Linked DNA regions of Homo sapiens: region 2 is linked to region 1. The links come from fine-mapping of genetic effects on gene expression. A gene starts in region 1. The other region holds a variant in brackets. All regions are shown on one strand. Distances are from middle to middle. Region 1 holds the start of ZCCHC18 (zinc finger CCHC-type containing 18). Region 2 overlaps FAM199X (family with sequence similarity 199, X-linked).

Evidence for each region. PIP is the estimated chance that this variant, and not a neighbour inherited with it, causes the effect.
Region 2: its variant is fine-mapped to the expression of ZCCHC18 in whole blood (TOPMed, PIP above 0.99).

Annotation. Positions count from the first base shown.
Region 1 is chrX:104,107,802-104,124,434 of GRCh38, reverse strand. ZCCHC18 (zinc finger CCHC-type containing 18) reads right to left here and starts at 11,912. Exons shown (of 3, transcript NM_001143978.3): 1 at 11,434-11,912; 2 at 11,189-11,240; 3 at 8,593-11,001. The coding sequence starts at 10,323. The coding sequence ends at 9,112. All of the region lies in intron 1 of SLC25A53 (solute carrier family 25 member 53), which reads left to right. LOC286437 (a long non-coding RNA gene) reads left to right here. Exons shown (of 1, transcript NR_039980.1): 1 at 1-2,130. RefSeq lists a silencer at 11,962-12,191 and an enhancer at 13,389-13,628.
Region 2 is chrX:104,194,825-104,211,457 of GRCh38, reverse strand. It overlaps FAM199X (family with sequence similarity 199, X-linked), which reads right to left. Exons shown (of 6, transcript NM_207318.4): 6 at 15,556-16,633. Among named protein-coding and RNA genes, the nearest start is that of FAM199X, 37 kb to the right of the region's middle. The variant AC/C (reference allele first, on the strand shown) is at 11,652.

The sequences.
Region 1 (16,633 bases):
ATTAACCAATTTACAAGAGAAAAACAGCCCCATCAAAAAGTGGGCAAAAGATACGAACAGACACTTCTCAAAAGAAGACATTTATGCGGCCAAAAAACATATGAAAAAAATCTCATCATCACTGGTCATTAGAGAAATGCAAATCAAAACCACAATGAGATACCATCTCATGCCAGTTAGAATGGCAATCATTAAAAAGTCAGGAAACAACACATGCTGGCGAGGCTGTGGAGAAATAGGAACGCTTTTACACTGTTGGTGGGAGTGTAAATTAGTGCAGCCATTGTGGAAGACAGTGTGGCGATTCCTCAAGGATCTAGAATCAGAAATACCATTTGACCTAGCAATCCCATTACTGTGTATATACCCAAAGGATTATACATCATTCTGCTATAAAGACACATGCACATGTATGTTTATTGCAGCACTATTCACAATAGCAAAGACTTGGAACTGACCCAAATGCTCATCAGTGATAGACTGGATAAAGAAAATGTGGCACATATACACCATGGAATACTATAAATATATAAAAAAAGATGAGTTCATGTCCTTTGCAGGGACATGGATGAAGCTGGAAACCATTGTTATCAGCAAACTAACACAGGAACAGAAAACCAAACACCACATATTCTCACTTATAAGTGGGAATTGAACAATGAGAACACATGGACACAGGGAGGGGAACATCACACAACGGGGCCTGTTGAGGGGTAGGGGGCTAGAGGAGGGATAGCATTAGCAGAAATACCTAATGTAGATGACAGGTCGATGGATGCAGCAAACCACCATGGCACGTGTATACCTATGTAACCTGCACGTTCTGCACATGTATCCCAGAACTTAAAGTATAATTTTAAAAAAAGGGAAAAAAAGTAAAAAAAAAAAATAAACAAATCAGCAAACTACACAGAAGAATATTAGAACAATTTCTCTCAAATTTCTCTTCCATTGAGCTTCCTGCCTGACCCTAGAGCTCCCTCACCTCTTTGGCTTACCAGCTCCCATCCTTCAAAGTTTCTGAGTTATTCTGTGGGGAATTTGAGCTACTCTCTTCCTTTAGGTCCAGGCCATCTCAGCTAGGTCCAGAGAGCCTCACTCACCTCCCCAACTAAGCAAGCATCCCTGGAGGTATGTTCTTCATGCAAGGGCAGTTCCTGAGAGAATTTATTTGGTTAGCTCATAAAGGGATTATATTGTTTTCCCCTGCACATGAGAGAGAGTAGCTGAAGTCTACTGACTTTAATGAAATTCTCTGTGAAGAGTCTGGGAGGGACGGTTTAGGTAATCCATCTACAAGGGTGCTCAGAGAGTTTGGAGCGAAGCGATTGGTGTCGTTATGATGGCATTCTATGGCACAGTAGTTACAGTGCACCAGGCACTCTTTTAAAGACTTCTCAAGTGTTCATTCATTTAATTCTTACCACAACCCTGTGAGGGACTTCCTGTTATTGTCTCCGTTTTACTGGTGAGGAAGCTGAAGCAGAGAAGTTAACTACTTTGCCCAAGTTCCTTTCCTCCTTTGAGGATAAGGAGCCAAAGGTTCAGGAATGCCCAAATCACATCCCTCTTCTTGTCCAACCACCCAACCTCTCCACAGGCAACCTGATCAGCCACCTTTATACAAAGTACAGTATTCAGATTGGAATAAAAATATATCTCCTTGACTCCCTGCTCTGAGAGGTATTTCTTCTCAGACTCCCAAAAGCTGGATTGAGGAACATGGCTTAGTTGGTACAGTATAGCAAAATGTCCTGCTTGTTGAAACTGAATTTGTGATTATCTTCTTTTTCCTCAAGAAGTCATTGAGGGCTGTTGTATCCCTATAAAAGGAGAATTTAGAGTAGCCAAATAAAAGGGGGCTGAAGTAGTCTCATTACGGAAAAAGAGAGTGTGAGCAGCCTTTTAGTAATTGATTGCCTCAAGATGTGGTATTCAGCCAGGGTGAAGGGAAAGTAGTTGGGGCTGTGGATCTGGAGGTTTACAGAAGCCTTTACCCATCCTGAGACTCAGTTCTGCTGTTGGTCTTCAGAGAAGTGTCTGCACCTGCTGAGAAGAAATCACACCACTGCACTCTAGCCTGGGCAACAGAGCGAGACTCTGTCTCAAAAAAAAAACAAAAAAAAAAAACAAAAAAAAGAAATCAGACATCTAAATATGTACAAAAAACTAATAAACCTCTGGAAAAATGGACTCAGAATAAAGACATATACAAATAAAAAATATTTGGAATGCGTACTAAATGCCACTGAATTGTACACTTTAAAATGGTCAAAATGGTGAATTTTTTGTAACTTTTACCACAATGAAAATTTTGGAACAAAAAGGGGGGATAGAACTATGGGTAGAATACAGAAGAATCAGGCCAGGGATGATGGTTCACACCTGTAATCCCAGCACTTTGGGAGACTAAGGCGGGAGGATCACTTGAGGCCAGGAATTTGAGACCAGCCTGGGCAACAGAGTGCGATTGCCATCTCTACCAAATATCTATGTTCATATATATATATATATATATATATATATATATATATATATATATATATATATATATATATATCATACCATTTGATGTGATGTCTAGTAATTGCTTTAAAATACTTCATCAAAATGTGGGGGATGAGACAAATTATGCAACATATTGATAATTCTTGAAGCTGAATGATGAGTACATGGGGATTCATCATTCATTTTCTATAATTTCATGTGGGTTTGGAAAGTTCCATTGAAAATGTTAAAAACAACCCGCTCCTCCTGCCAAATCATTTGAAAACTTAATTTGGGGAGTTTCTTAGAGCTGAGTTGACCTTTAAATATTATTAAGTATTAAAGTCTCTAGTAGCTCAGAGTTAAAGGGTATTCCCAGCAAGTTTAAGAGATGAGGAAGGGCCCTGAATGTGAGCCAGAGCTACTAAAGTAGGATGTGCCACAGGCCACCTCTCTTTCTGCTCTGGTTCCTGTGAAACATAGTGCTTGTTCCAGTAACGTCACCTCTAGGAATGTATCCTCAGGAAATAATCGTTCACATGTGCAAACCTGTATGTGAATAAGGATGCTTTTCTCAGTGGGTTTATAACAGTGAAACAAGGAAACAAGGTAATGAATGGCTCTAAAGAGGCTGGTTTAATAAATCATGGATACAAGTAAATAATTGGATTTAATGCAGTTATGAAAAATAATCTAAACACCTTGGACCTCAGTTGCCTGGTTTTTAAATGAAGAAAGCCAAAGAAGAATTGTATTCCTCAACTAGTTTTAGGAGGCCAGCAAACCTTTGATACCAAAATCTCACAAAGACATTATACAGAAAGGAAAATTACAGGTGAATCTCTCTTACAGACATAGATCTAAAAATCCTAAACAAAATATTAGCAAATTGAATCCAGCAATATATAACAATTGTAATAAATCAGGACCAAATCTTGTTTATTTCAGGAATGCCTGGTTGGTTTATTATTAGAAACCCAAATAATGTAATTTAGCATTTTAACTAATAAATGAGAAAAAAGCATATATAATAGATACAGAAAAAGCATTTCATAAAATTCAGCATCCATTGATTATTTTAAAAACTTATGGTAAATTAGGAATGGAAGGAAACATTTTTAAACTGATAAGTGGTATTTACTAAAAACCTGCAGCAAGCATCCACTTAATGTTGAATTGCTCAAAGTGGTCCCTTGAGTTCAGGAATAGGACAAGAATGTCTCTTCTCACTAGTTGTACTCTAGGTCCCAGTCGATGCAGTAAGGTAAGAAAAAGAAATGTATATGGATTGGGAAAGAAGAAATAAAACTACCATCATTCACAGATGACATGCTTGTGTATGCAGAAAATTCTAAGGAAGCTACAGATTAAAATTATTAAGAGATTAGCAAAGTCAGTGTACAATATCAACATCAAAAGACCAGTTATATTTCTATATACCATCAACAAGCCCTTAGAAAATGAAATTTAAACCAATATTTAATTTATAGTAGTATACACAATTACCTTGAACTAAATGTAATAATAGACGTACAAAACCTCAAGCAAAAGTTATGAAGCTTTGTTGACAATGTCAAGTGTTTGTGAGGATGTGGAGCAACAGGAACTCTCAAACATTGATGGTGGAAGTGGGAATTGGTACAACTTTGATATACAGTTTGGTGGTATCTAGTGAAGTTGAAAATATACACAATCTATGAGCCAGCAATTCCTCTCCTACATATATACCTTGTGTGTGCACATATGTACCAGGAGACATTAAAAACATGTTCTTAGCAACATTTTTCATAATTGTCCCCAACTGGAAACAGTCCAAATGTCCACCGACAGTAAAAGGATAATTTCTTGTAAAGTCGTAGAATGGAAAGCTGTAACACAATACTGAGAATGATGAACCGATGCCGCATGCAACCAGGTTGAATCTCAGAAGCATAATTGTAAGGGCAATGAGCTGGATATAGAAGGATATATGCATTATAGTTCTATTTACATAAAGCTCCAGAAACAGTAGTGTTTGGGCATCTATATTTGAGTGGTAAAGCTATAAAGGAAAGTAAGAAAGCAACAGCTAAAACTGTCATGAGAGTGTTTTGTTTTGTTTTGGAGAGAGGAAAGAGGTTGTGATTGGGCAAGGACTTATGGGAATTTCTGGAGTTCTGATCTGTTCTGTTTCTTGATCTTTATGGTGATTTGCTTTATAATAATTTGTTAAGCTGTAAATTTATATTTTATGCACTTTCCTCTGCTCCCCCCGCCCCCCGCTTAAAGAGTGTTTTAGAATGTGGAAATTTTAAGATAAGATCTATCTCAGGGCTTGTTGTAAGAATGAAATGAAGTATAAAGCCATGTAGAGCTTGTAGAATATGCCTGGCACTTTGTAAGACCTTAATAAATGTTAACTATCTAAACACAATACAGATTTGCTGTTATTATTGCTTCTCTTATTTGTTGCCAGCCCTGCCCCCTTTCCATGATATTTGTTGCCAATGTTTCTCAGCTTACTGTTGGTATTTTATTTCTGTTAATGCTGTCTTCTGAGTTATCAGTCTTTTCTTTTATACTTTCTTTCATTACTCTTAACCATAGAAAGTTCTCTCCAACCCAGAGGTTTAACATGTATTGTGTTGCAGCTTTAAAAGGGGTTGCTTTTGAACATTTGATTCTTTTTATTCATTTTATAACAAAATATACGATTAAAGAAGAATTAATACATAATTGCATAAAATCTACATTTACTGCTCAAATGTATCTGGGATTCATATTTAGTGTCATGGGAGAAAGGAAACTGACCTTTTTTCCAATCAGGTAATGAAGTTCCCCCCAGCACCATGAATTGAACAATTTATCTCTCCTCCACTCATTGTTGCAGCTGTCTCCTCTTGCATACATCAAATTCAAAACCATTTGCACCAAAAGCATAGACTGGAAACTTGATACCTGAACTGAATGTGATAATGCAACTCTGAAGGGGGAGGGGATGGTTGCCAGGCAGCAGGAAGGATAGCTGCAACAAGAGGATGTGAAAGAAAGGTGGCCTGTGTCACACAAGTATTCCTTAAAGGCTGCATCCTTGTGTATGGCGCACAAGCCACTTGCTGCTATGATATTTGGCTAATTATGTCTGTTGACCTTGCTTTCCTCATGTATCATCTTTATATAATAGTAACACCTACCTCATGGGGTGCTGTGCACATGATGGCTAACTCAAGTAAGGAACACAGACTTTGGGATCAGTCAGTCCAGTGTCTTATCCTTGACTGTACCACTAAATAATTACATGACCCTAAGTACGTTTCCTAACTTCCCAGCCTGTTTCATCATCTGAAATATGTGTCAATTAATAGTAATTAAATTAATAGCAAGTTAGAAATAGAAAGTCATGCTTATCTTAAGGGAGTTGCTATGAAAAGCTAATAATGCATTTTAAAGGCTTGGCACTGGGTGCCTGGCATGTAATAAGCTTGGAATAAATCGCACTTGCAGTGATTTTAATTTTTATTGCTATTGTGGAAGGATCAGGAAGGGAAAGAATATTCGGCAAAAGACACTGAGAAGTAGGCATCAAAAAGATCTGGGAGAGGGAAACCATGAGATGGATGTCATGGAAACAAGGGAAAATAGTATCAAGAAGGAGGGAGATATTGCAAAAGGAGGTCATTCAAAGGCTGGTTTCTCCTGACAAGACAAAAGAGCAATTTTCATCTCTTGGCGACTAATGAGAATGAAGGGAGAAAGGAAAGGAAAAACAATAATTATAAATGAAGGGTATCAAACACAAAATTTTTTAAAAGCCTTCTTTCACTTAACCCTGTAATCACTCCAAGTCTTCTTTGTCTTCCAATTAGGGAAAATACATACTTCTTGAATAAAGGAAAGCCAGTGTGACACAAAATGAAATAAAAAGTCTCACTTTTGCATCATTTTGGTGAAGTAAAAATTTAGACAGTTTCAGGTTTACACAACAGAGGACAGGATGGGGGGGAAGGAAAGGGGATGAATTACACAGCAGGGTTTCAAAGTAATGATCTTGAACCTCCAAGCTAACTCCAGTGAAAAGGAGGATGGGGGTAGGTGTAGCATTTATTCCTCTTTTCACTCTACCTGGTTTCAGAAAGAAATTATGACAGCATATCTAGGTAAATCATTCAATAGCATTTATAGAGTGAATTTGAGAAAAGGTGAGCAGCAAGGGGAACTATATTCTAATCTTGGAGAGATGAGTGGGCAAATCCCCTCCAAGGATAGACTTTGGGAGAGGTAGGGAGGAATAGGGGGCTGTAAGAGCCAGGTAGTGTTGGGGGACCCTGTGGCTTTGGGGGCTTGATGAAGCTGCCTCCTGCGTGGGTGGTGGGGTCCTCTTTGCCTGTGGTGAGATGGAGGTGGCTGCCAGGAGCCAGAGGTGCCCCAGAGGGATGCAAAAAGTGGGTCTCTTGGACCTTTACTCCTGCTCAGTTCTCAGCTAAAAGGTCAGAGGCAGAGGGGCCCTCCCAGTCTACTGGCCATGAGCATTAAGGAGGCTGAGGCTTAAGGCCATCATGGAATGCGGAGGAGGGGGAGGTGGTGATGGGCAGAGCACATGAAGCTGAGCCTCCATCTCCCTCCACCAAGAGGTGAGTGTGGCTCCAGGGAAGGGGAGTGGTGGTAAAGTGAGACTGTGATAAAATGGATGGAGCAAGGGGGATAGGAATGAGATTGCGGGGATATGGATGAAGCAGGGGGGATCTGAATGAGATTGTGGGGATATGGATGGAGCAGGGGGGATATGAATGAGATTGTGGGGATATGGATGGGGCAGTGGGGATCTGAATGAGATTGTGGGGATATGGATGGAGCAGGGCGGATAGGAATGAGACTGAGGATACAGATGGAGCAGGAAGGATCTGAATGAGATTGTGGGGATGTGCATGGAGCAGGGGGGAACTGAATGGGATTGTGGGGATATGGATGGAGCAGGGGGGTATGAATGAGACTGTGAGGATATAGATTGAGCAGAGGGGATAGGAATGTAATTGTAGGTATATGGATGGAGCAGGGGTGATAGGAATGAGATTGTGGGGATATGGATGGAGCAGTGGGGATAGGAATGGGATTATGGGGATGTGGATGAAGCAAGGGAAAGGGCCCAGGGAAGAGCAGAGTTGGAGGTGATTCTGGAAGGAGAGCACTCCAAGGTGGATTCTGGGCCTGGCAGCCCCGGGAAGGCTGCATTGGGCTCCTTGCAGTGTGTGGCTTCTACTCCTCCCTGGGGGCCTCAGCCTAGACCCTTTTGTCCCCATCAGCCTGCTAGCCTAATTAGAGTCCTAACCTCCACTCCCCCTACAACATAGCCCAGGGTTCTGTGTGAAACCTGTGGGTCTGCAGTTTCTGCCAGGCCTCCTGTCCCTGTCACTGTAGATGGGAGCCCACCAGCTTGGCCATCATACCCCTCCCCCTCTCCCCTGTCCTCCTGTCCTCCACCTACATAGCTCTGTGCTCCTTTCCCTGAGGTGCCAGCTCTGGCTGCTGCACACCCTGTCTTGTCAGCCCAGGGACCCCCTCTTTCCTCCCAGGCAAACTCCCTCAGGTCCTCAGGTCTGCATTCATTTCACTCCACTCCTTGCCTTAAATGAAATCATTCCCCCCTGCTCCTTGCCAGTTTTGACCTCTTCGTGAAGATAGGGACTACTGTACCTACCAGAAACTTGGGACCCTCAGGGATAGAGGTCACATGTCATCTTTTATCACCCTCTAATCTGAGGTCAAGAGATCGGGCAGGAGTAGTTGTCCCTTCCCAATACAAACAGGAATGGAGCCTCTGGAATACCCATTTTCAATTTTTGTCCCCCCCCCGTTCCCCATCTGATGTCTCATGATATGTTCAAGAAGAAAACATTGGAACATTATTAACTCATGGGTGCAGGGGTTGGCTCTATGACCTAGGAGACAGGTCAGTTGTGTTAAGGGGTTGTATGGGAGATATTCAGTCCATTTCAGCTTCCTTTCTCCTTTCCTATAAATGAGGTCGATAAAAACCCCTCCTCATGGTATGACCCCCCCTTATAGCTTCTATATTTAGTTTCATTTTTCTTTATCTTTCTAAAAGTAACATCACACAGAGACATGAAGTTAGATATTTATATATATTCATCGACATAGAAGTCCACGAGATACATTATTTGGTGAAAAATACACAGTATAGAACAGCACTTATATTTGGTCACTCTTATCTATACATATATCTATCTGGGTACACAGGTACAGGGAGATATCTGGAAGGACATTCACCAAAGGGCTGACAATGGTTACAAAAGGGTGCTGAGTTTCAGGTAATTTGTACTTTAGTTTTTGTATCTTCCTTTATTTTTGAAGGTTTAATGAAAAGATGCTCCTTTCATAAAAAGTATAAAGTCATCAAAGAAATAGACACATGGAGAATAGACCCTTAAGCCAGCAGAGAAGAGAGCAGGGACAGAGGTCACACCATTCCCCATCCACTGTGCTGGTATGCAAGACCTCTTCTCCTTCCCAAAGGAAAACTGCTTTGTGGATTAATTCATGCAGTTAGAAACCCACCCCCCTCTCCTGTTATTCCCATTACCAGACTCTGAATACAGTCAAGGACTCATTTAGGGCTGGACTAGATCCTTACTGTGGCTCAGAAGCATCACTGTGTTCTCCAGGGACCTCTTTTGACCTCTCCTCTGTATGTGTCAGCTCCTGCAGGGTGATGATCAGATTCTCAAAAACCTGGGCCTTGTTGCTCTCATTGTCACAGGTTTCTTTTGAGTGGCCCTCCTCCCCACAATATGAGCAGCGGGTTGTGTATTTTCGCTTCCTGGCTCTACGAATATTCCCAGGACCATCATTCTTATACCCAGAACCACCACTGGTAGAAAGAGACTGAGCCCCAGAATTGTTGGGGGAATCAATAACCAGCACTTGATCCAGAGGTCTGGCTCTTCCTCTGAAGGGAGGGGCACCTGTAGGTGTCAGTGAAGGGTACAGAGACACCACCAGGATCACATCCTCATCAGAGTCATCAAGGGTATCATCTATTTCTATCACGTTGCAGTTACAGTCAGCACTGCTGATTGCTATTGGCTGGGCGCCCTGAAATGCCACAGGGCTGGCTGCCCTCTCCATTATTGGCTCAGACCTTTTCGGCCGCTTCCGTTTAATAAAAGCATCATCCCAATCCTCTTCCTCCCTTATCATCTTGATTAACTCCAGGAAATTGGGAAGCCGCTCCTGCTTATTTGCATACATCCTGAGAAGATGCTTAAGCCTGAAGCGCAGGTCCCTATTCAGCTCAGCGCCTAAAAGAAGCTGTTGCAAGCGAGTCTGGTTTGCATCTTTCTCAGCTAGGATGCCTGCCTGAATAGCATTCTGGAGCTGCACCTCTAAACGGATCACATAAAGGGAGGCTTTCTCCCCTTGTGCCTGCAGGGTGTTAAAAAATTTACCATGGGCAGTCACACTGCTTTCAGACTCCCCAAACACCAATTTCATTGCCCGCAAGAAATCTGCTACACTTAGGTTGGGGTTGGCCGCCTGAAGCAAACGCATGACCTCCCGGGCAGGGCCCCTAAGTGTTTTCATCAAGCGCTTGAGTTTTTCCTCCTCAGACATACTCCAATCTGGCAGGACCTCATTGACTTGGATCAGCCAGTTTTCAAAGGTTTCTTTCCCCTGGGCTGGCACCACTCTTCCTGAGAACAACTTCATGTTTCTCTCTGCCATTTTGACCACTAAAGGACAGAGACTCCTCCCCAGAGACCTCAACATGGAATGGGCCCAAGGCGGCAAAGGTGCATTCTGCTGCCTGCTGTTACCCACACACGCAGTGATGCTAGCCATGACTGACGACGATAGGGTATCTGAATACAACAAGATGCTCGCGCTTTTTGGAAAAGCCTTATCTGCAGGATTCTCCAAAGCAACGTTCCTGGGCTGTGCCTGCCTTATATTTCAGTAGGGATTCTAAGGAAAGTAAAAAAGGTTAATAAGATAGTGGGCTGTGGGGAAGCAGTCTGCAGTAGCATTCTCTATCTTCCTGAATAGCCTTGCAGTGCATTTTATATCTGCCCAGTGCCTTAACAATACCCTGCAGGAGACTGGCAATTACAACATTCCAGAGCTAGCAGGTGTCCCTGGGCTAGTAGGTAGTTTTTCAGAGCCACATCCATCCCCTCCTGCCTGTACTCCAGGAGGGGCGACAACTGTTGCTTCTAATTCTAGATGACATAGTGTTGGGAGCTGATACTGGGCCCTCAAAACGGAACTCAATGGTTGTGTGTCACAGATTTATGATAATAAGAAACCATTAACCTCATGGCCTCAGGTCTCAATCACACCCCCTTGTCAACGTTTCCCCCGTTATTTCTCAGATTCTTACATGAGCTCGGAAACTAGCGTTCGCCTTTATTTTACGTGCAGCCTCTGCAACAGGTGCCTGCCGTGAGAAAATTAGCCTCTGGGGTACGGCCGACTTTTGTCCACTGGGTGTCGCAGATCCCAGTCCTCAGGGCCTCAAGACTGTGCCGCGAAGGAGGGAAAGGAAGGGTTGGAAGCAGCTTCATCTGAAAACCTGATACCTCCCCTCCACCGCCTCCACTGTCGCCAGGCGGAAAATTCCCTCTCCCATCTTCTGAACGCAAGCCAAAGTGCCTCCTGCCCTCCCGCGCATCCCCCTTACATTTCCTCCGGGAGACCCTCGCCCTACCAGCTCTGCAATCCGCCGCACAGAATTCAAGTTCGGATTCGGCTTTGATGACCTGCCAGGGAGAAAGAGACTAGAAGTTGGATAACCTCCCACCCTCATATTCCTTCCCAGGAAGAGATGAGGAGATGCAAAAGGGGTTCAAGACAGCTTGCGATCGTCTCCTCCCGCCCCTTGCCACCTCCCCGAACACACCCCGCCCCCGACACCCAACAACACCCCCGACCTACGACAACACCCCCACCCACCTTAATCCAGGCAAATCCTAAATCCTATCCAGTCGGCAGCATCCAGATGAACCACAACTCCTTCCTCAGCGCAACCAGGCCAAGGGAGTGCTCCATCCCCTGCCTCGCAGTTACTGATTCTCCAAGCCGGGCGCCGCCCAGTCCTGGCGGGGCTTCCCCCACCCCTCTCCGCGCCGGGCAATCGCGCGTTCTTTCTTTACTTGTGCTCCACTGGTGGGCAGCATGTGCTCCCGCGTCCACAGCTCTGTTTCGCCTTCCGGTCCCCGTAGCTCTGCAGGGGAACGGGATCTCTGCCGCCTCCTCGGCCGCTAAGCGACCCGGGGCTGCCCGACCTAGCGAGTGCGCACGACCGCCCAGCGAGGGGTAGCCGAGTCGAGGCAGCACGGTTCCCAAGGCAGCCAAGGCTGCGCCCACCCTCCAGTTCGGCCCTCCGGGCAGCCGCGGTTGCTTTCAGTCTCTGGCGACTGAGACAAAAGAGCGTGACGGGCCGGGCGACGCGGCCAATCAGCGGGGCGAGGGGGCGGCCTCGCCGCACAGCCTCCGGCCCCGAAGCTACTGCTAGCAAGAAGGGGGAGCGGGCCGGCTGGCCGGCGGGCCGGCGGGCGGGGGCTGCGGCAGACAGGCGCGGGAGGCGGCACGGCGTCAGCAGCTCGGACGCACGGACTGGGCCCATTTCCCTTTCATCCGTGAGTTTGCTGCTAACCCATCTCTTCCCTTCTCCCTATCCCCTTACACCTCGGCTCTCCTCCGGGCTTTTAGACCGGATACCTTAAACACGAGGTGGGACAGAAACCAAGTGAACAATGAGAGTTCCTCACCTTTGTATAGGGGGAAGCGGGGAAACAGCGTTTACTGAGTGCTTTCTGTGTGCAGAGGCGCCTGCATGGACATCTCCTTTCCTCTTCTCAGCAGCCGTGTGAAGGAGGTAGTAGTGTGCCCATTTAACAGGAAAGGACTGAAGCACCCAGGCAGTACAGTTAGGAAGTGCAGAGTTAAGAGCTCACACCCAAGTCACCATGTCTGACTTCAAAGGCTGCCCCTTGCCAGCACTCCTCTATTCTGTCAGATTAAGGGATAGTGGAGAAAAACCAAAGCCAGATGGGAGGACCAACTTGGGATTGCATAGAATTGGTGAGCAAGAACCATTATCTCCATTTCACAGATGAAGAAACTGAGCCAGAGAGAGACAGGTTACTAGTTTTGGCCTGTATCCTGCAGCAAATAAGTTACAGCATCCAACCTAGCACCGTCTGTTGCTCTCTAGATGCTAATTCGTTGCCCTGCAGCGCTGCCTGGAGAGTATTTTTGCACAGGTAGTCTCAAACCATCTCAACAGCAGTCTCAATGTGATAATAGTGCTGAGGGAGGGGGTGAGGAGGTAGTGGGGAGAGGGCTGAGGGAAGATGAGGGCAACCTTTATGGTGCCCATTGTACAGAAGAGGAAACTCTTCTTGGTACTTTTCTTTCTTTCATTTTTTTTATTAATCTTTTTTTCTTTTCTTCTTTTTTTTTCTTTTTACACAACAAGCTGCCTGTTTTATAAAAGCAACATAATTTCGACAGCCCTTTGTGACCCCAAAGAGGCCAGGCTCAGAGAGGTAAAATGATTTGTCTGAAAATACAAGGTGAAGCCAAAATTTGAACTGAGTCTCTGAATCCAGAACTCATGCTATTAACCAAAGTGTGAGTACAAGGTGAGCTGCCTCAGAATCATTTTGGAGAGCTTGTTATAAATGTAGATTATTGGGCCTTACCCCTGGGGGATTTTGATGTAGTAGGACTAGGGGTGAAGAGTGTGATTTGTAGTTTTAACCAGCCCTGTAGTTGATTCTGAGGTGTAGAGAGATTCATGAACCACTTTTCTAAACACCACCACGTGATGCTGAAGGTTATAAGTAAATGGGCCTGCCATCAGTGTATCTGTCCATGGCATATCTGTCATGAAATGTAACTCCAGAGCACAGGTTCCTACCCGAGGTCCTTCCTGGAATTGTATGCAAAGAATCTGGACTCCGTACATTCTTCTGAGCCCACAGCTTTGCAGATTTTCAAATGGGTCTGTCATAACGTCTTCCTTCTTCAAGCCATGCTTGATGAAGAAGTGTGAGAAATAAAACCCCATTTAACCTAACCCCCAAACCACAGCTCTCTGTTGCTGATATGGCTCTTTCATTTCCTGGCTCAAGGACAGGTTGCTAGGTTGCCCTTCTGTGAGCTCTTCAGGGTACTTCTCCTTTGCTGGATTTGGCATCACTGGCCCCAGAGAAGGAGCAACTCCATGGAAACGGCATGCAGGGCTGTCCAAAGTGAATGGCCATGAAGGCAGTGGCTGGAAAACCTGCTCCATTTTTCCCTGACTTAGAGAGCAGGTATTACTTCCTTTATGTATAGTGTGGCTAGGAGGCTTCTGTGGGGCTTGTTCTTGACTCCTGATGTTTAGAAGCAAGTAAACAGTCTGATGCCCTTCCGCTGCTGTTGGCTTCATCTTCAGTCTGCCAAGGTACTTCACTTGCTCCTTTCCGCCCTCTTATTTACAACCCCAAGATCTAGAGTTCCTTGGAGTAAACAATAAAAATTTGGAGATAAGCACCTTCCATCTCAGGATCATGGTCTGTGGATGGAACAGTGGGGTAGTGGTGGTGGAGGCTGGAAAGTGTGGATGTATGGAGAAGGCAAGTTGCTCACCTCACACACTTAGGGGTGATGCTGGCAGTTGCTCTTAGGTTTCCTTCAGACTTTTGCTTCTGCTCCCCCATCCCGTGACATCTGACCCTTACCTCCCAGAAGAGTCTTGTTCAGTGTTTAAATTGGCTTTATCACCAAATTAGGTATTTGCAGCTGGACTTGGTAGGGATGGAATCACATAGGACCAAGAATAGGTGTCAGAGCTCAGACAAAAATAATGACAGGAAATGGATTGTGTAAAGGTGCCAGGGTTGGGCTACTAGAACAAAGCGAGGGACTCTTCATGCAGGGATGGGGGTAGTATTTGCAACCTGGCTTCAATTGGATACAGGACATGGCCTCACATGTATGAGTGTGTTCCAACTGATGCCTCTAATGAGACCACATTTTCTAATTTCAACAAATAAACCTTAAAAGCTTGAAGGTTTGGAGATAAAGCTTTCAGTTGAAACAATAATAGCTGCCTTTGGCTGCCTGCCTCCTTTGTGCCAGGAACTTTCTGTCTGTTATCTCTTTTAAGCTTCTTATCAACCCTGTTGAGACAGCTATTGTATCCCATTTTGCAGAAAGGGAAACTGAATTTCAGGGACATTAAGTAACTTGTGTCAGGCTTCACAACTTGTAAGTGGAGGCACTGAGACTGCAGGCCAGGGATGTCGAACTCCAAAGCCCATGAAAACTCTTCTTTGCTGCCTTCCAAACAAGCAGTCCAAAATGCATTCTGTAGATAACCCAGTTCATTAGACCAATTGCAGCCTTTAGAACAATTTAATTGTTATCTTGCCTTTATTCCTATTATCTCATTTTTAAAAAATGAAACTGCTAATATAACTTATGAAGCAACTTATATACCAGGTGCTGTGCTAAGCACTTTCCATACTTTGTCTCATGCATCCTTCATGACAATCATTTTACATATAAGGATACTGAGGATCAGCGAGATGATGAAACTTGGCCAAGGTTATAAAGCTAGGAAGTGACAGAGTGAAATTCAAACCCAGGGCTGCCTGTATCCAGAGCCCATCTCTGTGCCCTACAACACAATGCAGCGGAGAAGACAAATGTGGTCCTCATCTTAAATGGGCTTCTCTCTGTCAACCACAGCTCTATTTCCTTCTCACCACATGGGGTAGGCCAGCCCCATGCACAACTCACACTCTTAAGCCTATGTGCCTTAGGCCACTTCCTCAGCCTAGAATGCTTGCCCTCACTCCCCTACCTAACAACAGCCTATTCTACTCTACTCAATTAAGGATTGAGTCATATGCCCCTTCTCAGGTGGAATAAATTGCTGTTGTCTTTTTGCTTCCACCTTCATTACTGTACCCTTTATTTTGTCTTTCTGTAGAGTTTAGCACACTGTTGACCTGTCTCCCAAGCTAGTTGACTAGATTTCTAAGCACTTGAGGGCAGGCACCAAGTTCTATTCACTCTAGCTCTATGGTGGTTTACCCACAATGATTTAGTGGATGATCAATACATGTTTGTGAGCAGACCAAAGGACTGGCTGAGAGATGCCCTGAATGAACAGACAAATGCATTCATTTGTGGCTGGATCCTGGGGCAGTCACACAGTCTACCCATGTGGACTAGACTGGCTGGGAGAGTCTGGAATCCTCTGGGCTCATTTTACTAGGCTGTAAACATAGGAGGCAGGTCATAGGGTACAGGTGATATCTGCTTAAGGCCAACTCTAGGTCCATTCTGTGGTCTATACTTTGAATTCATGTGAAGGGGCCAGGCTCTCCTAGATTGCTTATGTTGCACCTTCCTATTTGTGGAAGTAAGGGCTTCCCTGCCTCCCTTGGGAACAGAAGATTTGTTCCCAAATGCCCCTGTATCTGGTTATGGCTGTCCCGAGAGCATCCAGAAGGAGCATGCGTTCTGTGGAGACAGATAGTGAAGTCCAGAAGCATCTTTTTTTGATCCTTCTTATCAAGGCCACCATGTTATGGATTCTCAACCACTTTGTCTCATTTTATGTTATTAATCTCTGCCACAACGTTTTGAGGTGGATCTTAATACCCCTGTTTTGTAGCTGAAGAACCTGAGACTGAATGAAATGTCTTTTCCAAGGTCACACAACTAAGTGGCAGAGGCAGAATTCAGTCTCGGGTCTGTCTGCCCTTTCCAAAGCCTGGCATCTTAACAGAAAATACATGGGAGAAACACGAACTCCCCTCCCATAAAATGGAAAGGATTGGATTTATAAAATGGATTACATATTAAGGTTAGATGTTTCTCAATTATTGTTCACCTTTATTCCCCCAAAATGATTTACAAAAATGGCAGAAGGAGTTGGGGATTGAAAAGTACAATTCCTCTATCAACTATTGACCTGAATGCCCAATATCACCCCCCTCTGACAGATACAGTATGGAGATGACTAAAAATTATTTTGCCCTTTCTGCTCCATTTACAGCTCAGATGGGTAAGGCTCCAAGATGTCACTGAATTTCTAAAGGTCACACATCAAGTTGATAATAAAACTCACTTAGAATGCTGGTATCTCATA
Region 2 (16,633 bases), 87 kb before region 1:
AATGTGCTCAGCATCACACAGGAGAAAAGTGAAAGAGACAGCTATGGTAGCCTATTCTCTCTGATTCCAAAGTCTAAGTAACAAAACAAACAAGGGCGATGTAGCAGCCTGCATGGTGTGTGGCTAGAGCTGGCGAATTAGTTTTTATTAGTTTCATTCCATCTCTAACATTTAATGCTAATTTAAGTATTAGAGGAAAAGGAAAAAAACTCTATAAGTGAGTTGTGTGTTTGAGAAAGAAACACCTCGGAGAAGGGTGACTAACATACATAAATCTCAGCAAAAATAAGTTGGGGTAACTGGCTTCTATACAGTGAAGAATGCATCTGTTCCCCCCTTGCCATCCTCATGGCCATTGCCATAGTTGAGACCCTAATTCTCTCTCTTCTGGATCTGTCTTTGTAAGTTCTCTTCTGCAAAAGAAGGTAAGGATGCTCAGTCTTCTTCAAATTATAATGGGGTCACCACTCTACTTAAAAGCCTTCGAAAAGACTCTAGGATTCCCCTTGACTTCACAGCCTCCTCCAGCTACCACCTTATTTCTTTGCTCCCTGTCACAGTAAGGTTTCTCAACAGAGTTGTCTCTATACTGGCTATCTTCACTTCCTTGCTTCTCATTCTCTCTTAAACTCACCACATTCTGGCCTCTGTCCATCAGCATTCCACAAAAACTTCTTTTTTTTTTTTTTAATTTTGAGGTCACCACAATCTTCATATTGTCAAATGCAGTGGACCCTTTTCTTCCTCATCTTACTCTCAGCAGCATTTCACACTCCCTCTCTCTAGAAACACTAGCCTGGACTTTTTCTGACTTCTCCTCCTCTCTCCAACATCTGAAATTTGCTGTCACAAGTCTTGGTTGTGAGAAACACTTCTCCATCTGCATTCTCTCCTTATATGATCCCATCCAGTCCTACCTTGAAATACTACCTATATGCTGTTTCCCAAATTTACATCTTCAACCAGATCATTTCTCAGCTTCAGTCTCCTATATCTAATGATCTGTTTGATATTTCCACTTGCATATCTCAAATTCAACATGTCAAAAATGAATCTTTGATTCCCACAATACCCAATTTCTCTTAACTTTTCCTCATCTCATAAGATGTCATCTTTCCATTTCTACCGTCATCCTAATCCAAACTATCATCATTTCTTGCTTAGACTATACCAATGGCTTCCTAGCGGGTCTCCCTGCTTTTATCTTTGCCTTCCTATGATACTTTCTCCATAGAGCAGTCACAATAAACCTGAAAGCCTAAATCGGAACATAGAACTACCCTTCTTAAATACTTCCTTCTATACACACAAAGGGCTTACATGTAGTAGAAAGAATAAAAATTATAAGATAGCGCTGGCATTGTTAAGGATTTGTGCATATGTCTTACTCTTCCTAACAAATGTATAGCTTCATAGATTCGATAGTGCCTTACACATTAGGAATCTGCAAGCTTTTCTGTAAAGGGTGATATTTTAGGCTTGGGGGCCATATGGTCTCTGTCACAACTACTTAACTTTGTCATTGTAGCACAAAAACAGCCATGGACAATAAATGAAGAGGCATGGATGTGTTCCCACAAAACTTTATTTACAAAAAACATGCAGCAGGCTGGATTTGGCTCACAGATCATAATTTGTCAAGCCCTGTTCTAAGTGTCCCGAGTCTTCTGTGATTATATCAAAGAAAAATGCCTACTATGGCAGACATGAAGGTGTACCATTCAGATCTCCCTTCAAGAGAGAAACTAGTCAAGGGGTGCAATTATCTGACAGCCTCAAGTTGCAGGTTGCTTTAGGGTCTGTTCAGTTTTAGAGTCAAGGCCATGTGCTTCCCAGGTAGTTCTCAGCCTATGACTGAACATAATGGTGGTACAATGGCTCACCATTTATGGCCAGCACAGGACAATCTTTACACATGGGTGAGCTTTGCACCAGAGCTCCCTACTTGGCTGGCTGGGATTTTTTTCAGAGCTATGCTGCAATGTGAGGCTGTTCCTCCCCAATTCTCCTTTCTTCCCACTTTCCTTTGTCACGGGTCAAACCTGCATCACAGTCTAAAGGCAAGTAATGTGTTGGTGGCCTGGACTTCAGTGGTAACAACAGTAGTGGTAAGAAATAGTCAGATTCTGGAAAACTCTATAGGTAGAGCCAACAGGATTTGCTGACAGAGTGGGTTTTGGGTGTGAGTTAAAGAAAGGAGTTAGGGGCCAGGCATGGTGGCGCGTGCCTGTATTCCCAGCTGAGGCAGGAGGATGACTTGAGCCTTGGAGGCAGAGGTTGCAGTGAGCTGATGAGCTGAGATCGCGCCACTGCACTCTAGCCTGGGCAACAGAACAAGACTCTCTCTCTCAAAAAAAAAAAAAAAAAAAGGAGTTGCCAAAAATGACTCTATTTAGTGTTTTCTGGTTCACTCATTTCTGCTCCTATTTTTCTTGTTACCTGCCTTATATTTTCTTTAGTTTTATTCTGTTGTTCTGTCTCTGAATTCTTCATTTATACAGTTAATAATCAATTTTGAAGCCTTTTCTCGTTTTATAAGCATCTAAGACTATACATTTCCCATGAGATAATTTAGCTGCGCACCACTTTGTTGGATAGTACTTTCATTTTTATTCAGCTGTATTTTTAAATTTGTTACTTCTTCATTGACCCATGAGTTATTTAGAAGTACATTTTCAAACTTTCAAAGATGTGTTTTTCTCTAATTATTATTTTCTATTGGTTCCAGTTTATCTGCATTGTGGTCAGAAAATGTGCCCTGATGATATTTAAAAAAAAATGTTCAGACATGTTTTAAGGCCTGGTCTGCAGTCGAATTTTGTAAAAATGCTGTGTGGGCTTTTTGAGACTTCTGTAATAATTGGGATTGTGTTCTATACATTCCATTAAATTAGGCTTAGTAATTGTGTTGTTTAAATCTATATCCTTATTGAATTTTTATCTGTTCAATCTAAAAATAGAGAAAAGTGCTTAAAACTCCCACCATAATGTAGATTTGTCAATTTCTCCTGGTAGTTCTGTAAATTTTGCTCTCTATATTTTTGAAACTATGTTGTTAGGCAAATTCAAGTTTAGAACTGCTATATTCTTTTAGTGACTTGAACCTTTTATCATTACATAGTGACAACCTTCTTTATTTTTAGTAATGCTTTTTGCCTTCAGGTCTATTTTGCTTGTTGTGAATGTAGTTTCACCACCTTTCTTTTGGTTATTATTTGCCTGATATACCTTTTCCCGTTCTTTGACTTTCACCTTTTACGGGTCCTCATGTTTTAGATGTGTCTATTACAAAGAGATTACAAAGAGCATTTGCTTTTCTTCTCCCTTAACTTAATCATATAATCTTTTAACATTAGTTGTTTCACATTTATTGTTATTTAAAAAAATATATTTGATTTTCTTTCAGCCATTTTGTGCATTCTATTCATCCCACTTTGTGGGTTTTTTTTTTTCTTTTCTTGCCTTTTTTAGATTTTAAAGATTCTTTTTTCTTGCTCCATTTTTTCCCTTTACAGATTTGGAAGTTAATTACTCTTTTATTTTCAGTAAACAATCCTTGAAATTCAAATTTAAAATAAAAATTTTAAATATTCATTGAAATAAAATTAAAATTTAATGTAATTAAGGACCTTGTATAAGCCCTTAGAATATTTTGACTGCAATCATTGCCTTCTGGCTTAAATGCTCATTTTGAAGCATTTTATTGAAATATACATACAGAATATTGCACATTAGTGTACAGCTCACTGACTTTCTACAAGTAGACTACATTATTTAACTAACCAACAGCCATCTCAAGAAGTAGAAAATTACCAGTTCCCCAGAAGGGCCCCTTAAATACCCTTGTAGTCATTACAGGCATCCCAGACCCATAAAGGTAACCACTATCCTAGTCCTAGCAACATAGTTTTAATTTTCTTTTAATACCACGTACTATGTACTCCTTTGTATTTGGTTTATTTTGCTCAACATCATGTTGGTGAGACAGATTTATATTGTTGGGTATAGTTGTAGATAATTCATGATCAAGATTGTATAGTATTCCATTGTGTGAATATACCCTGATTAATCTATCCATGCACCTGTTGGTCATTTGATTAGTTTCCAGTTTGGGGATATTATAGTATTGCTATAAATATTCTAGCATATGTCTTTTGGCAAACATACACCTTTCTCAGGTAGGAGACTGCCAGCCCTTATTTTCCAGTCCGGACAGGATGAAATGAAAAAACCATTAGAAACCAGCAGATGGTAACTAAAGTGATCCTGAGCTGCCCTCATTGCTCATTAGCACCATGACAGTTTACAAACACCATGGCAACAACCCAGAAGTTACCATCTCTTTTTAGAAAGTTCTTAATAAGACATCCCCTCAATTTGCATTAACCCACCCCTTAATTTGCATGTAATTGAAAGTGGGAATAAGTGAGTATAAATACAGTCGCTAAGAGCCCATACATTGCTGACTGTGGGTGCACTGTCTACAATTTAGCCCTGCTCTGTGAGGAGCTGTGCTGTTTAATAAAAGACTGTTGTCTAATAAACTGGGTTATCTTAAGGTATTAATTTGCTGAGTTATGGGAAATTTTGCTTTTAATGGTATAACCAGTGCCTTTTGGAGCTTCTTGGATTCATGTCTCAGAGGGTCAACTGTTGTCTCACTATTCTCTGCTCTCTTCTTTTAAAAATGCTGGAGATGATGGCTCTCTGTTTTAGCTTTTTTGTCAACTTCTGTGACTTTTTCTCCTCTTGTTCTGACTTTTGTCGTGGCCTGATACTAAAGTGTTTTGTCTTAAAGGTCTGTGAGAGCAGTGGTTTCCCTCAGTATTGCTTGATTCTATGCTTTTAATTTTTCCTAATATATAATCTTATTTTTGACTTTTAAGTATTGACTCTTATATTGCTTAAAAGTGGTTTAAGGGCTAATAAGTGTCTGCCCACCTTCATTCCCGTTCGGCCCAAAACATACATTTATTTATTTATTTATTTATTTATGAGACAGAGTCTCACTCTGTCACCCAGGCTGGAGTGCAGTGGCACCATCTCGGCTCACTGTGACCTCCGCCTCCTGGGTTCAAGCGATTCTCCTGCCTCAGCCTCCCAAGTAGCTGGGATTACAGGTGCACACCACCATGCCTGGCTAATTTTTGTATTTTTAGTAGAGGTGGGGTTTTGCCATGTTGGCCAGACTGGTCTTGAACTCCTGACCTCAGGTGATCTGCCCTCCTCAGCCTCCCAAAGTGCTGGGATTACAGGCACGAGCCACCGCGCCCAGCCCTTAGGACGTTTTTAAATGGCCATACTCCCAGTGGAAATAAATCTTCATTTATTTTTATTTTGATTCATTTATTTATTTTTTGTGATGGAGTCTCACTCTGTTGCCCAGGCTGGAGTGTAATGGCATGATCTCAGCTCACTGCAACTTCTGCCTCCCAGGTTCAAGCAATTCTCCTGCCTCAGGCTCCCAAGTAGCTGAGACTACAGGCGCCCACCACCACACCTGGCTAATTTTTTTTGTATTTTCAGTAAAGACGGGGTTTCGCCATGTTGGCCAGGTTGTTCTTGAACTCCTGACCTCAAGTGATCCTCCCGCCTCATCCTCCTAAAGTGCTGGGATTACAGGCATGAGCCACCATGCCCAGCCGGAAATAAATCTTTCAATAACTATCTTATTTAGACATATTCATACTATACTGATGACAAGGCAGTTTTCTAAATGCACACGAGGTAAATGGAGTTAACACTGCTAAGTGAATGTGACATTTTTGTTGTACTGTGATCATAGATGAATCAACTAAGTAAAACAATTAATCACAAATCAGTGTTACCAGGCTCACTGAGAGACTATTTCTCCCTTGCAAGGCAGTTAGAAGCTCTAAATTTATAAGCTAATCAGTTTATTCTAGCTATAAGCAGACATAAGTATCTGAGTATGCAGAAAATTTGTGGGCAATTAAGCTCAAATGATGATCCCCTTATATATATTTTGGCACATTTTTATCATACGGGTGTTGTGCAGATATATAAAATGACATACATTACAGATAAAATTTGGATAATATAATACTAAGATAACTAGTCCAGAATTTTAATACATGTCAATAAGATACTTAAGAATCACAAATTATCTTCATTTCATCGGCCTTTAAATAGCTTTGCTTTGTTTTGCGATGACTGGAACTTGTAACCTTAGTAAGTATCATTATCATGACCAAAATCATTTGGAAAGGAACAGGGATTTACAAAGCTTTCAGTAAGTACTCCCCGATGGTGTTAGGGTTTTTAAAGTAACCTATTTGAATTGAAATCTCCATTAATCTCAGATTGACAAAGCTATTAATAATATCAAATTAACAAAGTTCTTTACACAGGCACAAGGAACCACAAGGATGTAAAAATGAAAATGTGGACTAGTGGGAAAGACAAATAAACCTTCTTAATTGTAAGGCAGAATGACATACAAGCTGAATAAAGGTACATAAACATTTGAATAGTGCCTAGAAGCAGCAGCCTACATGTGGCCTGTGCTGGTCTATAATGAACTTTTCACTGGTCTGTAGCAAAATGATCAATATAACAACGTAGAAAAGTTTCCACACAGCTTCTTTAGATTATGTCCTTCCTACTTTCTTGGCATTAAAATTAGCTTTCTTTTAATGAAATGCATATTGGTTCCCTCTTCTGGGAAACTGAAAACCTATGCAAAATAATGTAAACTGTGTAGACTGGGTGTGGTGGCTCACACCTGTAATCCCAGCACTTTGGGAGGCCAAGGTGGGCGGATCACCTGAGGTCAGGAATTTGACACCAGCCTGGCCAACATGGCAAAACCCTGTCTCTACTAAAAATACAAAAATTAGCCAGGCCTGGTGGCAGGTGCCTGTAATCCCAGCTACTTGGGAGGCTGAGGCAGAAGAATCGCTTGAACCTGGGAGGTGGAGGTTGCAGTGAGCCGAGATCGCGCCATTGCACTCCAGCCTGGGCGACAAGAGCGAAACTCCGTCTCCAAAAAGAAAAAAAAAAAAAGAGAAAAGAAAAGAATGTAAGTTGTGTGAAGGCAGAAACTGTATCTGTTTTTCTTTACCACTCATCTCATGGTGCTTAACATAGTGCCTAGTAGACATTCAACAAATATTGCTGAATAAATGAACGAGGAAGCAGCATATGAGTTTTCCTTTGCACGATGAAAAGGATGCAAGAGGAAGTCATTTCATTGTATATTTTTAGTAAATGATGTACTAGTTACCTAGCACTGCATAACACATTACCCCAAAATTTAGCAGTTTAAAACAACACACATTATCTTGCAGTTTCTGTGGGTCGGGAATCGGACATTACTTAGATTGGGTGTTTAGCTCAGGTCTCACAAGGCTGCACTCTTCTCAAGAATCTACTGGGAAGGATCCACTTCCTAGCTCACTCACATGACTGTTGGCAGGATTCAATTCCTCACAAGCTGTTGGCCAGAGGCCTCCTCCATGATTCTTTGCCATGTGGCCCTCTCCACAGAGCATCTCATAGCATGGCAGCTTGCTTTATCAGAGCCAGCGACCGAGAGGACAGAAGAGAATGCCAGCAAATGATTGCATGAGCAAGACAACAATTTTCTACACTGCCTCACTTGTGCTGTATTTTATTGATCAGAAGCAAGTCACTGGGTCCAGCCCACACCCAAGGGAAGGGAATTATACAGGGCATGAATTGCCACAATCATTAGAAGCCACATGAGAAGCTGCAGACCACAAACGCTGAGTAGACTGGTTGGTTTGAGTGTAGAGTAAATGAACAAATGCACTAAGTAAATTGAGGCCAGGCAAACAGCGGAGGCTCTTGAAATGTCCTAAGTTGTCTGAACTTTGTTCTGACCCTTGCTGCCACTCAAAGTGTGGGTCATGGATCACCAGCATTCATATCACCTGGATACTTGCTGGAAACACAGAATCTTGGGGTCCTACCACAGACTTACTGAATCAGAATCTGCATTTTAACAAGTACCTATGTGTATTAAGGTTTAAGGAGTATTGCTCTAGATCCTGAGGAGAAAACAGCTCTGGTGGTAAGATTGAACATGAAGGTAAAGGAGGGGGAGGAATGAATCAAAGATGACTAAATTTTTTGAGGATACCTAATAAGAATTTGGTCTGATCAGGGCATTAGGAGGTCTACCGAAGAATATGACTCATCCTCAATCAGTGGCTCCCACACTTATTCTGCATTAAAATCTCCTAAAGTCTTTTAAAAAATGGTGCTCAGGGCCAAGCATGGTGGCTCATGTCTGTAATCCCAGCATTTTGGGAAGCCGAGGCAGGAGGATCATTTGAGCCCAGGCATTTGAGGCTAGGCTGGCCAATACAGCGAGGCACTGTCTCTAAATAAAATGGAAAAATTAGCCAGGTGTGGTGGCTTGCGCCTATAGTCCCAGCTACTCAGGGAGGCTGAAGTGGGAGAATTGCTTGCCCAGCAGATTGAGGCTGCAATGAGCCATGATCACACCACTGCACTCCTGTCTGGGTGACAGAGTGTGAGCCTATGTCAAAATAAAAGAATCAAATGGTGCTCAGCTCCTTAGAGAAATGGCTAACTCTAGGGCTGGGGCATCGTGTAGTGCCAGAAAGCAAAGAACTGCTCAAAATTCAAAAGGATGAGGGCAGGTCAAAGGGACACTGGAGCCAAGCTTTAAGAATTTCTAATGTCCAAAGCTGGAAAAATTTGAGTAACAAAATAACAGTACTTGGTTACAACCCAAAGTATAAAATAAACATCCATTAATCTGTCCTGACATGAATGACTGAATAAATAAATAAAGGCTGGGTGCGGTGGCTCACGCCTGCAATCCCAGCACTTTGGGAGGCCGAACTGGGCGGGTCACCTGAGGTCGGGAGTTCGAGACCAGCCTGGCCAACATGGTGGAACCCCCTCTCTACTAAAAATACAAAAATTAGCCTGGCATGGTGGTGCATGCCTGTAATCCCAACTACTTGGGAGGCTGAGGCAGGAGAATCGCTTGAACCTGGGAGGCAGAGGTTGCAGTGAGCCAAGAGCACGCCACTGCATTCCATCTTGGGAGGGCAACAGAGCAAGACTCCGTCTCAAAAATAAAATAAAAATAAAAATAAATAAGTAGGCAGAAGAAACAAATCTTTCATATGGAAGAATTCCAAATAATATATGTAGATATTCCATTCTTCAGGAGGTGGAGCCTCCTCTCCCCTTTGAGTGTGGGCTGGACTGAATGACTTGCTTCTGGAGAACAGAGTACAGAAAGGGAAAAATAGTACATTACAATGAAGAAGTCTGGCAAACACTATCTTAGCCAGGTGATAAAAGTTAGCATAACTAGTGTTAAACCATGTTGACAGTATATCTTTGAGGTGAAGAGAATGGCACTTCATTTTTATGGTAATCTTCCTTAAGTCCCCAAATCCCAGTCTAACCATGAGAACATCAGACAAACCCAAATTGAGGGGTGATACTCCACAAAATACCTGACCAATTCTCCTATTGGTCAAGATCATGAAAAGCAAGGAAAGGGCCAGGCATGGTGGCTCACACCTGTAATCCTAGCACTTTGGGAGGCTGAGGCAGGCAGATCACTTGAGGTCAGGAGTTTGAAACCAGCTTGGCCAACATGGTGAAACTCTGTCTCTACTGAAAATACAAAAAAGTTAGCTGGGCATGGTGGTGGGCGCCTGTAATCCTAGCTACTTGGGAGGCTGAAGCAAGAGAATCACTTGAACCCGGGAAGTGGAGGTCGCAGTGAGCCGAGATCCCGCCATTGCACTCCAGCCTGGGCGACAAAGCAAGACTCCATCTCAAAAAAAAAAAAAAAAAAAAAGCAAAGAAAGGGAAGACTAAGAAACATCAGGCACCAGAGGAGGATAAGGAGACATAAATGCAAGGGGATCCTGAATTGGATTCTGGGATATAAAGAGGAGATTAGTGGAAAAACTAGTGAAATCTTAATAAAGTCTCTAGTTAACGGTAATGTACTAACATTAGTTTCAAAGTTTTGGCAAATGTACTATAATTACATTAAGATATTAACATTAAAGAAAACTGGGTGAGAGGTATGCAGGACATCTCAGTACTATCTGTAACAACTTTTCTGTAAATCTAAAATTATTCCAAAATAGAATGTTTATTATAAAACAATAAATACCCAGGCCTCACCTTTGAGATTCTAATTTAATTTGTCTGGGTGAGGGACAGGGAACATCAGGCACCAGTATTTTCTCTTTTTGTTTTTTTGAGACAGAGTCTTGCTCTTGTAGCCCAGGCTGGAGTGCAATGGCATGATCTTGGCCCACTGCAACCTCTGCCCCCTGGGTTCAAGCAATCCTGCTGCCTTATTCTCCCAAGTAGCTGGGAATACAGGTGCCCACCACCACGTCTGGCTAATTTTTTGTATTTTTAGTAGAGACGGGGTTTCACCATGTTGGCCAGGCTGGTCTCAAACTCCTGACCTCAGGTGATCTGCCCACCTCGGCCTCCCAAAGTGCTGGGATTACAGGCATGAGCCACCATGCCCGGCCTGGCACCAGTGTTTTCTAAAAGTTCCCGGATGATTCTGATGTTCAGCCAAAGATACACTACTCTATATCAGTGTTTCTCAAATCTAAATGTCCATCAGAATACTCTGGCAGGCTTATTGAAACATGGATTTCTGGCCAGGTGCGGTGGCTCATTCCTGTAGTCCCAGGACTTTGGGAGGATGAGGCGGGCAGATTGCTTGAGCTCAGGAGTTCCAGACAAGCCTGGGCAGCATGGGGAAACCCTGTCTCTATGAAAATACGAAAATTAGCTGGGCATGGTGGCACATGCCTGTAGTCCTAGCTAGTTGGGAGGCTGAGGGGGGAGGACTGTTTGAGCCCAGGACGTTGAGGCTGCAGTAAGTGGTGGCCGCCCCACTGCACTCCAGCCTGGGTGACAAAGTGAGACCCTGTCTCAAAAAACAAACAAAAAAACACAGATTGCTGAGCCCCTCCCCCAGAACATCTCACTCAGTAGGTCTAGGCTGGGGCCTGAGTGTTTGTACCTCCTACAAATTGCCAGGTGATGCTGATTTTGATGGTCCACATACTGGGACCACTGTTCTATACCAAAATCTTAGGGTGGTTTCTCCCAGTTTCTTGGTGTGAGTTGTACAAGTGTGCAAACCACTGTGAAAAGTAACAGCATGACATATGCAGCGTGATACACCTCCAGAGACTTGGATTCTAGCCCTTAATCTGTCATCAACCAGCCATGTGATCTGGATGAAGCACTTTACCTCTCTGGGCCTCAAGTTTCTCATCTGCAAAATAAAGAGACTGATTTAATGACCATTAAATCAAAAAGCCTATATCTCATTCAAATTTTCAGATGATCAACTAGCTCTGTTATCTCGGATTTGGTAAGTGATTATGGGAAATCTAACCCAATATTTCTAAAACATTAGTGAAAGATTTCTCTAGAGTACATTTTATGATTATAAAGCAATGAAAACTCTTTTAAATCAATAAGCCAGAGCTAATACATCCAAATTAGTATCACCCCATTCTATGTCACCCTGATACACCTAGTCCAATAATGCTGTCTTGCCCAAGATATTTCTGGAACTCTAGTATGTATCAACACCAGTTTTAAGGCCACATACACACACACAAAAAAAA[AC/C]AGCGTAATTACTTTAAAAATTATACCTCATTGGCCAAATCCAGAAATTTCCAGATTTCTCACTCACATCAACCACCAGACAGCTTCCAAATGACCCTTGGTTATTTTCAAAAACCAAAAGTGCCCTAAAAACACAATGTTAGTCATTAGGGGGAAGGAAATTCACTTGAGAACTTGATAAAAGATACAAAACCCTCCCTAGAAAAACATATCAGCAAACAAATTTTGCCAATAATTTTGATCGCTAGACTCCAGGTTAGTAACTTCTGCCCTAGAAAGACAAAAGATTTACTACTACCAAGAAAATTCACATATGCAGAGGAGACTCGAAAGAAAGCTTCTGGAGCCAACTACTCTGAAGGGAAAAAACATATAAAAGCACTGGATTTGGGGTAAGTCACCTCAAGATTTAGATTTAGATTTGGCTGTATCACTAACCAGTTTTGGGCAAAGAAGTAACTTTCCTCCTAGTGTAAATTTTCTCATTTGCAGGGAGGGAGAAGAAGGGACTGAGCTGCATCAATAGTTCTGTGTGTTCACTGGATGAGCAGCATCACATAGGACCTGTTTTAAAAATGCAAATTCCCAAGCCCCACCCCAGACCTACTCAATCAGAATCTCTGGGGGTGGAGCTTGACTATCAGTGTTTTAACAAGCCCTCCTGGGGATTCTGATCCACTGCTCAAGTTCGAAAACCAAGACAGATGATCTCCAAAGTCCTTTCAAGTTCTCAAATTTTATAATTTATTTGAAAAGTATACTCTGGTAAGTTAAAATGCAAAACAAAAACCAATAGTCTCTGTTTTATCTGTTAAAAAAGATTTAATTTCTAATAAATAAAAGGTTAGAAATGTCTATTTTTCCTTATATTCCCCATGGGATCCTTACATTTTTTTTTAAAATAAATACTAGGTATTTGAATCTGTTACATGTGGGCCGATTTCAGCTAAAAAAAAAGAAAATTATTAAGCCCAGAGGTAAGGTGGGACAGAAAATACCTGGCTCAGCTTATCTTGAACAGTTACTTTCCTGCCTGCTACTCAAATTATCCTGTGGCTTTAACAACAAAGTAGTGAGGAAAACAACTGGAATGTTTTTATCTAAGAATAATAGATACCTCACTTTCAATTAAAATGTGCTCAAGACACCATCAGGACCTATCAAGTAATAGTAAAAATAACTATTCTACCTTGGTGCTAGCAAAATGCAGAATGATTTTGAAATTAACACAAATGGTTATAATCTTGATGATTTTGAAATGAACACAATGGTTATGATTTTGATTTCAAATAGGTAGACCAGATATTTGATATTACAGAACTATTTTTATTTATAAATAAACAAGGTATATTTAAATAAATAATAAATAAGGAGGTATGATGATGGTATCATAATTATATATAAAATGGGAAGGCTGGGTGTGGTGGCTCATGCTTGTAATCCCAGCACTTTGGGAGGCCAAGGTAAGAGGATCACTTGAGCCCAGGAGCTCAAGATCAGCCTGGGCAACACAGGGACTCCATCTCTAAAAAAAAATAAAACAATTAGCCAGGCATGGTTGTGCACATCAGTGGTCCCAGTGGTCCCAATACCTTGGGTGACTGAGGAAGGAGGATTGCTTGGGCCTGGGCCGAGGCTGCAATGAACTGTGATTGCGCCACTGTACTCCAGCCTGGGTGACAGAGTGAGACTCTGTCTCCAAGAAAATAAAAGTGTCCTTACCTTTTAAAAATCATATACTGACATGTTAAAAAATGAAATATGTCACCTGGGGTTTGCTTTAGTATCACTGGGAGTTGAGGTAAGGTGAGTGGGTAGGTGGGAGTAAAAGACACAAGATTGTCTGTGAGAAGAGTTGAAGTAGATACAGGTATGTGTGGATTCATCTTACTGTTCTCTCTACTTGAAATTCTTTGTGTGTTTGTTTTTGGAGACAGGGTCTCGCCCTGTCGCCCAGGTTGGAGTGCAGTGGCGTGATCTTGGCTCACTGCAACCTCCGCCTCCCAGGTTGAAGTGATTCTCCTGCCTCACCCTCCTGAGCAGCTGGGATTACAGGTGTGTGCCACCACATCTGGCTTTTTTTTTTTTTTTGTAGAGACAGGGTTTCGCTGTGTTGGCAGACTGGTCTTGAACTCCTGACCTCAAGTGATCTGCTCACCTTGGCCTCCCAAATTGCTGGGATTACAGGCGTGAGCCATCGCGCCCAGCTGAAATTCTTTATAATACAAAGTTGAAAATACATAAATCCAATCTAAATACATATTTTTAAGATAAAAAAGCATGTAACAGGATCCTGGTAACCAAAGGAATAAACTGGAATGTTAAAATGTTTGCTCATTACAAAGAGAAGCAACACTATACCTAAATCTAGTATCTATCAACTTATTACTAAGAAACAAGGATACTGTAATACAAACATCTCACTTACCATGAGATCCAAACTGATGGTGAGAGGGCAGAGGATTGTCCAACTCAAGTAACAGTGACTATGAAGGCTCTCACAAGAATTATTAAAAAACACTTTGGGCCGGGTGCGGTGGCTCACGCCTGTAATCCCAACACTTTGGGAGGCCGAGGTGGGTGGATCACCTGAGGTCAGGAGCTCAAGAACACGTTGGCCAACATGGTGAAACCCTGTCTCTACTAAAAATACAAAATTAGCCGGGTGTGGTGGTGGATGCCTGTAGTCCCAGCTACTCGGGAGGCTGAGGCAGGAGAATCGCTTGAACCCGGGAGGTGGAGATTGTGGTGAGCGGAGATCGCACCACTGCACCCCAGCCTGGGCAACACAGTGAGACTCCATCGCCACTCACCTCCCTCCAAAAAAAAAAAAACAAACAAACACTGAGGGGATGATTCCGAAATTCACGTTTCTACTTATTTGTAAGCATAGTTTTAAACAACTGGAGTCTTCTAAAATGTATTCAGTTCTGTGTCACAGCACTGTCATTTATAATTGCTTTTTTTTTTTTTTTTGCATCGAAGGACTAACTCACAGAGAAAGCTGCATGGCAGCACTCTGCAACTATAAAATCTGTGAAACTGGCCCAAACTTCTCACATTATTCAAACATTAAATCTTATTCATAGTCAAATGAAATGGTCACTATGATAAATTTCTCCACTAAACCACCAAGTTCTCAAATTTGGTAGTGGCTTTAATGAAGCAGAAAATGAAATACAGGCTGGGTACAGTGGCTCACACCTATAATCCCAGAACTTTGGGAGGCCAAAGCAGGAGGATTGCTTGAGCCCAGGAGTTCGAGACCAGCCTAGACAAAAAACATTTTTTGTAGAGACCTTATCTCTACAAAAAATTGAAAAATTAGCTGAGTGTGGTGACATGTGCCCGTGGTCCTAGCTACTTCGGAGGCTGAGGTGGGAGGACCGCTTGAGCCTGGGAGGTTAAAGCTGTTGTGGGTTATGATCACACCACTGCATACCAGCCTGAGTGACAGAGCGAGGCCCTGTCTCAAAAAAAAGAAAAAGTTTAATCTCCCTCTCACACCAATCACCTACAACAGTTAACTGTGGGCAGCAGTTTTTTAGCCACTAATTACTGTTCACTGATAAAATGATGATAATGATCACTACATAAACCAGCAAATCTCTAGAGCAGCACTGTCCAACAGAACTTTCTGTGATGATGGAAATGTTCTACATCTCATGCTTTTCAATACAGTAAATAGCCTGTAGCCACATGGTAGCTACTGGATACTTGAAGAATTGCTAAGGAGACTAAAGAACTACATTTTAAATTTTACTTAACTTTAATTCATTTAAATAGACATATGTGGCTAGTGACTACCATAATGGATAGTACATTATGCACTGCCCATTATGGTAGTCACTAGCCACATATGGAGCTCTAGAGTACCTAAGAGAAGAAACACACACACGCACATTTCACTTAGTATCTAACTCACATTTATTAAAAATTGAAGATTACAGAAAAGCATAAGATTGGCATCATTAAACAAGCTTAATTAACTTACCTTTGACTAATAAATGAAAATATTTAATAACACTAAAGGAATTTTGAGAATAAGTTCTATTCCAACCTTAGAAATTAAAAATAAAAGCAAAGCAGCTATTCTCCAAAGGAGAAAGCAACCACAGATCTCCCTCTAGTGGCAAAAGATAAAGTTGCTGCTGAAAAGCTGAATTGCTCCTCCATACATAGAACTGCTCAGACATTTCTTCTATAAAATTCTAACTTAAGATTCTAAATCAATATATAAGGAAAATAGATCTATTTTTTGTCAAAAAAAATTAGACCTACTGCCCAGTAATAGCATGGATTAAAAAAATTAGACAATTTTCACTTACTATGAATGCTAATCTCTCTAGAAATCTGCTCTCTCTAGAAATCTGATCTGTCCAGAAAAAAAAATAAGTTTTGCCAATGACATTTGGGTATCTGGGGCTTTCACCAAATAAAAGTTTATAAAGCCATAACCAAACTGTGAGAAACAGAAAAGGGAGCAGTTCTCCTCTGTTGGTAAATATTCTGGGATAGAGCATGAAAGGAGCTGACTCAGAAGTATAAAGTAGTAAGCAGCAGTGAGTGGGCTGTGTAACAACTCAGGGTACATCAAAAGAAATAATATATTATAAGAGTTCTTAACCAAAACAACACTTTTCATTCTGGTATTCAGTTTCAAAAGACAGCTCTGCCACATTGCCAGTTTTAATTACAACCATACACACTCATTTAGATTTCACTACTGAACTACTTTCAAGTACAAGAAGGAACTCAAAATAGAAACGACTTATGATACAACTATTGTTATTCCCTCACAGCTTCAGGGAAAACAGGCTTTATATACACTGTAGTAAGTACAGAATGTACAGAAGACAGTTATATATACAAAAGTGCATTAATATAGTAATATATTTAGCAGTAATACAGGAAAAAAAAATCCTGGTTAACAATCTGATACATTACAGTATTTAAAACTACTTGAAGATTCTCCAAACCA